2 separate regions of the Homo sapiens genome follow, and region 1 is linked to region 2. Evidence: fine-mapped expression QTL. A gene starts in region 2. The other region holds a variant in brackets. All regions are shown on one strand. Distances are between the middles of the regions. Region 1 overlaps TM6SF1 (transmembrane 6 superfamily member 1). Region 2 holds the start of HDGFL3 (HDGF like 3).

Region 1 (4,000 bases), 73 kb before region 2:
GGTGTGATTCATTGCTAAACATCTTTATTTAGTATTAAATTATACTGATTTAACATCTTTTATGTACTTATCCTTTCATGGAGACACTCACAGTAAAAAGGTCAAAAGGTCAAGAGAATCTAAAAACAAAGGGCCCAGATTTTCTACAGTCGAGCACCAGATCATGAATGGGTATTTCAGTTTTGTACTTGTGTCTACAGAATAGCCCCAAGTGCTTGACACTGTCTAAGCATGTCACAAACATCACCTCACTGAACCCTCATAACAACCTATGAGGTGGGTTCCACACCTCACCCGAGGCCATACGGCTGGTTTGTGGTGGAGCTGTGATTTGACTCTGGATGTCTAGTTCCAAAGTCAGTGTTCTGAACCAATGAACTATGTTGCTCAGAAAACTCTAAGAAAAGATAACACAGTTCTAGATTAGCTATTTATACTGTATTAGCAAAAGACCCTGGCTATCATCCCAATGGTCACCTAAGTTTTCTGCCTATAACATTCACATGGACATATAACACTCTTTCAGTTCCTCCTTGTGGAACCACGATTAACTTTTTTAGTTATCCTTTACAGATTGTCTCTATACATGTAAGAAAACAGCTCTTAAAATTTAACCTTTGTTCACCTTATTGTCTCATTTGCCATTCCAATCATCCATTCTTAAAAAAAAATCAGAGTATATCTCTTAATTATTTCTGTAAGGTGAAAATGATTTAGAATGAAGTGGAAGAAAAATTATTAGGGACTCAACCTCACATTGCTAAATTCTGGAGAAATTTCTAGGATCAACAACTCATATCTGTAATCCTGGGCCTCCTGTTAATTCAGCAGCATTGAGTTCACTGAGCCACCTGACCCCAGCACAGGCTCAGGCTGAGCTCTTCAGGTCCTGCCATGAGAGGCCTTGTGCTGCTGGGAACATCACCCAGGAGAAAACCTGCAGCCCTTTATTAGCTATGTGCTTGGGAAGAGAAACCTCCTCAGGTGAGACTGTTTTTCTGAACTTCAGAACCCTGAACACTTAACATCCTATGCCTTAGGAGAAAGCTATGGTCAGGTGCTCACTCAGCTGGAAGTGTGGCCACCATAAGTACATCCATTAGGACTATGAGCAGTACTGGGAGCTGCACACCACTGGCCTTAGAGTTCTTCTCTCACATACAAATGCCTCTTTTGATTATGAATGTTAAAATTTTTGTGCCTTGTTTAATAATTCTGAATAAAGAGGCCTACTAAAATACATACAAAACTAGAGAAATGCTTTGTAGACCCTTTTTGTATTTTGACAGTCACAAGTCCATTGTTGTTGAACGTTTATTGAGCTCTAACAATGTGACAGGTGCCACACAAAACATTAGACACAGTACCTGCCCAGTGGGCTTACAATCTAATCTAAGGACATGAATCTTTTTTTTTTTTTAAAGACAGAGTCTCACTCTGTCACCCAGGCTGGAGTGCAGTGGCACAATCTTGGCTCACTGCAACCTCCACTCCCCGGGTTCAAGCAATTCTCCTGCCTCAGCCTCCCGAGCAGCTGAGATTACAGGCGTCTGCCACCACGCCCGGCTAATTTTTTGTATTTTTTAGTAGAGATGGGGTTTCACTATGTTGGCCAGGCTCGTCTTGAACTCCTGACCTCAGGTGATCCACCCGCCTTGGCCTCCCAAAGTACTGGGATTACAGGCGTGAGCCACTGCGCCCGGCCATGATTCACTTAATGTTGCCATGAGTTTGCTGTTCATGAAAGTGAGGTATTAACTGCACTGGTTAGTGCAGGAAAAGAGCCTACGGAATCACTGACTTTTTACACAGGCTCCCCTATGCAAGTAGGCACAACTGCTCATATTTATTCTCTCAAAGTATGGTTGGCATTTCCCCAAATTTGGTGATTTTGTGATGTGTACAAGTATCTATAAAGACAGAACCACCAAACCCAGATTTCTGAGAACCAGGGATCAAATGTGGCTTCCAGTCCA[G/A]AGAAAATGCTTGGTTATATATTCAGAAAAACACTATTATTCAAAACAGGCCCTAAGGAAAAACAGTATGGGAGCCATGCTCCTGCTCAGAGTTCCTAGAATGTCCAGAAAGCACCTCCTCAGGGCAGCCCTGAAAGTGCCCTTTACTCTCAAGGCATTTTGTCCTCAGAGCCCAGAGATGCATATACATTTGCTGGGTTCTGCCTGGGCATCTACCCAGGGGAGTTGTATCTGAGGGCCGAGTCCTCTCAGTGCCTCATGGATCACAATGTAGACAATCCACGTGCTGGTCCTTGGCAATACATCATGCTAATTTAATTTATATCTCCAGAGTAGCAAAAATGTACCACAGGTCTCCAGAATATATCAGGAATTTGTAAAAATGCAGCCCATTAAAATATCTGCCACTGATAAAAAATTCATAAAGATGCTGCTTAAAAAAACTTGTCCTTTTCTTGTCATGGTGAAGTCAAGTAAGTAACACCTTTATCTGTGAAATCACTCAGCAGAATAAATTGGTTTCATATGGAAGAAATGTAAAATAACTTATATGTATTTAAAGCAAATTATCTAGTTCTTCATTCTTGTTACTTCTATGCCTTCTCTATAGTGCAGTCTTTTGTCTCTTTGATCCTGATGAACTGATAATTTACTACTTATTACATTTAGATTCCCAATCCTTTATTCATGTGTATCTTGAATTTCAGCAAGATATGAAAATGCAGACTCCAGGGGTACATTTTGTAATGATACAAGCCTTCTGAGGAAATTTTCTGACAGGAGCTTTTAATCCTGCTGTGGTCTGTTTTACCCTTTCCAATACGGTTTTCCTCTGTGCTTGCGAAAAATATCAAAAAAGACCAATTGGCACATTCTGAATGTGTTTTCTGAATAAGTATATAAGTAGAGAGGGAGGCCATTTTGCAAATGCGGATAATGCTGACATGTCGTACTTCTAAATAAATTATAATTTGATTTAAAAAGGTTGCCTGCATGTACATTTGCCATTTTACAAAGAGCAACCGTACTCCTACCTCCACCCAAGTTGGTAACAACCTTATCTTACAAACAACCCTTAATATTTTAAAAGCTGCAGAAAAAACAAATACATGAATAAATGAATAAACAAAAAACACATAGGGAAAGGGTATGAGCTCTTGCTGCAAGGAGTAGATGAAAGACTGATAAATGAAGCTGAGGTCCCCCCAGTGCTTCCCTTTCAATAGTTTATGCTAAAAATATTTGTTTTTTAAAACTCTGCGCTTTCTTCATTTTTATTGGAACGCAATTTGTGAACCACAACTGAGTCTGTATGCAGGATCTCCAGAACGCAAATCAGAAAAAAATTTGAGATTTTATTCAGATTTTTCTATTAGATTGAGCCACTAATGTTCGGTAAGGGGCACTTGATGGTTAAAAAACACAACTGGCATGATAAAACTACACTAAATAATATCTACTTTATTTGAACAGTCATATCAAGAATGGCCCTAAATTTAATCAAGGACTAAATTTAATGAAAGACTCTGACATTAAAGACTCTGGATTGTTTGAAGGTATTTTGCCTGCAGGTGAGACTGGTTTTGAGGGCACAGAAACGTAGCCTGAATGAACCATTCAGAACTCATCATGCATCCAACTGAACACGTTTCATGCTTACTCAATTTTTTTTTTTTAAATGCAACAGGCTCAGTTTTCTCACATTGGTGCATCTCTTCATGCTAGAACTGCTTATGTCTACAGAGTCCCTGAAGAAGCAAAAATCCTTTTTTTAGCATTAAACATAGCATATGGAGTTCTTCCTCAGCTCTTGGCCTATCGTTGTATCTACAAACCAGAGTTCTTCATAAAAACAAAGGCAGAAGAAAAAGTGGAATAAAAATATTACTTCATGTTCCTCCTTTCTAAATTACTAACTTTTGTTATACTGGTACTGATATTTTGTCCCATTTCACTCTCTTCTCATACGTGAGTACTTAAGAATATGTACATTCTTGCTCTGCACTGTATGTGTGAGCTATATG
Region 2 (4,484 bases):
CCTAAAGCTATACATTTCTTACTTGGCAAACAGATTCGGGGATTTTCTGAAGTCACAAATATATTCAGGGACTCCTAAAGTCACAAATCTTGCCTCTCTAAGCAATACTGTATTACAGCATAAAAAATAACCAGTTATTCTACCTTAAAAACTTTGCCTTATCTTAAGGACAATCTACAGTTCAGATGCGAAGCTATTTTCAGTCTACTGGAACCTGAATAAGACTGTTTTTTCCTCTTGATATCTGAGGTTGTTAGTGTTGGAAAGGATCCTAGAGATGATTTTATAGTTGCAGCAATGGATATGCAGACAGTTGAAATGATTAGTCCATAACAGAGCCTGAACCAGACACCAGGTCCCCCAATTCCTGGCCTAGTGTTCTTTCCATTTGACAATCATGCCAAACCAAATATTTAAAAAGTGATTATGTCCATCCATTACTTCAACTTCACTAAATTTCAGTCTGGCCACTCGTGATGTCACTTCCTTTTGTGAATGGGTGTATTTTTTTTTCTTGATCTTGCTATCTTCACTTGACTACAATACAACATTTTAGAGCTCACACTATATTTATGCCAATTTTCTCCATGACTGTTTCCGTTCCTAAAGAATACCAATATAATCTCTAGAATGCCTTGACCCTCCTTTTCACAAGATTTCTTATTTCAAGCAATCAACTGCCAACCATACAAAAATAAAAATAAAAAGGATTTCTTCTAAAACACAAAGCACACATGGCAGTGTTGTGTGTCTTCCTCAAAGAGCTTAATAAAAATTGTGAATGCTATGTATTACATGCAGACGCTTTCTAGAAAAAGAGCCCAACGACAACCTTGTTATGTAGGAAGAGAGAGCTATTGTGGACTGTAGCAGGAGGCCAAGAATAAGGTTTGAGATTCTACCTAAAACAAATATGGAGGTGGAAAGGCACAAGAAGCTTGCTGGACCCACCAGTCAGAGGTAGGCTGCAAGCTCTCGGCTATCAGAGGTCGGTTTAAAAGAACGATGGGCACCAGAGAGGCACGTACCCCAGGACAATGATAGGGCAGGCGGGGCACCGGGAATCGCGCTCAGGGAAAACTCAACAAGTCTAGAAGGCAAAGAGATGGATGAATGACTGCCAAGAGGCTCCCGCTGGCCTCTGGATGACCACTACCACTTTCCAGGATTTACTGCCCGCCGGCACTCGCCGGCTCGCGGACAGCCGCTCACCCCGCTGCCGTACCTGCCCCGACGTTCGCCCGGGACCCAGGGTATCCACCAATGACCCTGCCCGGAGCCGAAGCCTCCGTCGCAGGCCCGCTGCCCGGCGGCGTGGCTTCCCGGTCGGCACCGGCTTTCCAGGAGGAAGGCAGCGTCGGGCCTGCGGGGGCCGGACCCGCCTTCGAAAGTGGGCGGAAGGATGGCCGCCCTGGCGGAGTGCGGGCGAGGCCGGGAGCCCTTGCCTCAGCCCCGGCCCGGTCTTCTTCGTGCCGCGCCGCCCTCAGCCCTCACCACAGCCGGCCGCGAGCTGCGGGCTCGGGGCTGAGGCGATGGGGAAAGGGGGCGGGCGCGCCATCATGAAGGGGAAAATGGTGGGCGGGCGGGCCCGCGCGCGGCCGCGGTACTCACCCGGGCCGGCCAGTGCGGGTAGCCCTTCATCTTGGCGAAGACCAGGTCGCCCGCTTTGTACTCGCGGGGCCGCGGACGCGCCATCCCAGCCGCTCCCCTTCCTGGTAGTCCTTGGTCGCCGCGAAGATGCCGGGAGGCCGCCCCCCCGCGGGCCGACGAATTGCGCCGCGCTCCCCGCGGGCCTCAAGCCGGGCGGACGAGCGGCCGCTCCGACGAGGGGAAGCGGCGAGGCGGCGGCTGAGGCAAGGGGTGGGCGGGGGGCGCAGCAGGCCCGGCAAATCACGGCCCGGCAGCGGGGGAGGGGAGCCCCCGGCCGTTCGGCGCTCGCCCGCGTCCGGCCGCGCCAAGGTCCCCGCCGCCGCCGCCGCCGCCGCCGCGCGCGCTGCTCACCAGCGCCGCGTCGCCTGCCTCATGCCGCCGCTGCCGGTCTCCCTCCCGGGCTCCCGGGCGCGGCGCGAGCGCCGGGCCTCGCGTCTGCTCCGAATTCCTTCTCGGGCAGCGACCGCAAACACGATCTTATTATTGTTCTCGCGCGCGCTCAGCATCCCCCCCCCGCCCCGCTTCCCGCTTCCCGCTCCCCTCCCCTTCCCTCCCGCGCGGGCCGGTTAATTCCTAGGTACACGGCCGGCTTTCGCGGAGAAACCGAGCGCGCCAGCCCGGCTTCTCGGCTGGCGGGCGGGCGGTGGGCGCGTCCTCCCCCAGCACCGAAGCCCGCGCCGGGCGGGCGGGAGTGCCTACTCCGGAGGACGCCCGCCGCCTGCTCTCTTTTGTTCTTGGCCCGGAGCTGCCTGCCGCAGCCCAGCCAATCACCACCCGGCCGCCCCCTTCCCCTCCCGTCCGTGCCACTCTGGGGGTTCTCCCCACTCGCGCCCCCCGCTCCCACGCCCACCTCCCGCTGACTCGACCCTCTCCTGGCTACCCCCAGCCAGCCACTTCCGCGGCTGCTCTCTGGTGAGTGGGGGACAAAGGCGCTCCAGGCCTGGGGGACGGCGGCGCGAGGGGACCCTCTGCTGGGCACCAAGCTGCCGGAAAGAGCACCGCTCCGGAGTCAGCGACCTTATTGGATTCTTGCCCCAGGTCTGCCCTTAACAATGCAGTGTGACCCACCTAGGGCGAGCTATTTAATCGGAGTCATGGGAGGTTTTCTCATTTGCTGAGTGGCACAGACGGGATTCGAACCTGTATCCACATGAGTCCAAAGTCCATAAGCGATTATGTTTCTCTCTGTGTGCGTTTTCTAGGCCTGCAGTGTTTGTGAAAAGGACTTGCACTGGCCGGTCACTTGTTTCCAATCCTGGCAACCTTTTGGACAACGTTTTTGAAATTAGCATCCCTTTCTGGAGATGTATGTACATATACAGTTCATTAGCTCTAGAACATGTTCATTTACCACTATTTTACTCTAAATTCCCTAGCTGGCTGCTTTCAAAGACATTTTGAGAGTAGGAATCTTCCTAACACTCTCTTTTGTGAGGAGTAAGTAGAATAATTCAAGGAATCGTTTGGAGTCTGTCCAATGAACGAATGCTGCTTCTTTAATCATGCTGTAACCCACCTCCTTTAAGGGGTCAGCTGGCATAGCTCCTAAATGCTGCTTTCTGTGGCCCTCACCTTGTCACACGGACAGTTCTCATTTGTGTCTGTTCTCTCTCCCTTTTACAGAAGCTACAGTTTTCCCCACCATCCGCCCCCCTCTCTGGCCTTGTAGAATGGTGTGTGTGTGTTTTAACTCCTGCTCTTGTTCTGTGGTGCTGGGCTTCCTATGATGGGGCTTTAAAGTCTCTAGATTTCCTGTGGATTGTTTACTTTGTTAGCAGTGCTTTTACATTACTTTACTAATGCATTTCCTTACTACTTGCATCTCATGATTTTTCTTTTTTTTTTTTTTTTTTGGTATTGACCTGTACTCACCTGTCCTACAGGTTCGTTTTTTTCCTCTTTTCTCACTGTGGAAGATGAGTCTAGGTCCTCTTTGCCTCAGTTGTGATGATCTGCTAACATCTCTCTCTCCTAGAACCTACCGTATGCAGCTGCCATGATGTCACGCATTGCTCATGAAGCTGTAGAATGATTTCTGTATCCTCATATGTCAAACTCACATCCCTCTGACTAGCTGTCAAAGCCCTAGCTGTTGCCTGCTTGCCCCTACAGTCCAGCCTCCCTGTGGGCACGGGGTGGATATAGGGAAGAGGAGAGAAATGAGAGGGGAAAGGTTGTCAGTTGGAAGCCAACCAGGGGAGGGCAGTAAACAATGGAGGGATGCGATCACAGTTCAGGTTTAGACATTACTTTGGTGGCCAGCATGGGACTAGACTTGAGGGTGAGAGGCTTGGGGCAGGACCTGCATTGATATTCTCTCCCCAGGAGAGATAAGACAAGGGCTGAGACAGAGCTTGCCGATTCTTTGGGTGGTAGGTGGGTAGGAAGGAGGAAGAGTAGAAACTGATTCCCTGGTTTCTGGTTGGAGCAACAGGATGATTAGTTTTGACACTCACCAAGGTGCAGAAATCCATGAAGAATGGGCAGGTTTAGAGATGAGATCTTGAGTGGTTTGGGATGTGTTGAGATTTCCATGGGCCATCCAGAGAGCTAGTTAGTGGGCAGCTAAATACACAGCTTAGAGAAAGTGGTCAAGACAGAATGTAGACTTTTGAGTGATATCAGTATATAAGTGGTCACTGAAACCATAACGGAGGATGCCCAGGAAACTGTAGAATGAGAAAAGCAGTGCCCAAGTTTGGAGCCAGGTAACACCAACATCTAAGGGTCAGGTAGAAGAAGAACGTAGTGTCATAGGAGCCAAGGAGTAAAAGATTTTCCAGAAGGAAGGAAATGTCTGGGTAGATGCCACAAGGAGGTCAAGTGAGATATGG

Evidence for each region. PIP is the estimated chance that this variant, and not a neighbour inherited with it, causes the effect.
Region 1: its variant is the best candidate, but not a certain one, in a credible set for the expression of HDGFL3 in whole blood (TOPMed, PIP 0.79).

The regions. Positions count from the first base shown.
Region 1 is chr15:83,132,818-83,136,817 of GRCh38, forward strand. TM6SF1 (transmembrane 6 superfamily member 1) reads left to right here. Exons shown (of 10, transcript NM_023003.5): 10 at 3,664-4,000. The coding sequence ends at 3,855. It overlaps HDGFL3 (HDGF like 3), which reads right to left. Exons shown (of 6, transcript NM_016073.4): 6 at 1-4,000. Among named protein-coding and RNA genes, the nearest start is that of TM6SF1, 27 kb to the left of the region's middle. The variant G/A (reference allele first, on the strand shown) is at 1,977.
Region 2 is chr15:83,205,720-83,210,203 of GRCh38, forward strand. It overlaps HDGFL3 (HDGF like 3), which reads right to left and starts at 2,104. Exons shown (of 6, transcript NM_016073.4): 1 at 1,612-2,104. The coding sequence starts at 1,695. RefSeq lists silencers at 1,362-1,811, 2,202-2,541 and an enhancer at 2,402-3,015.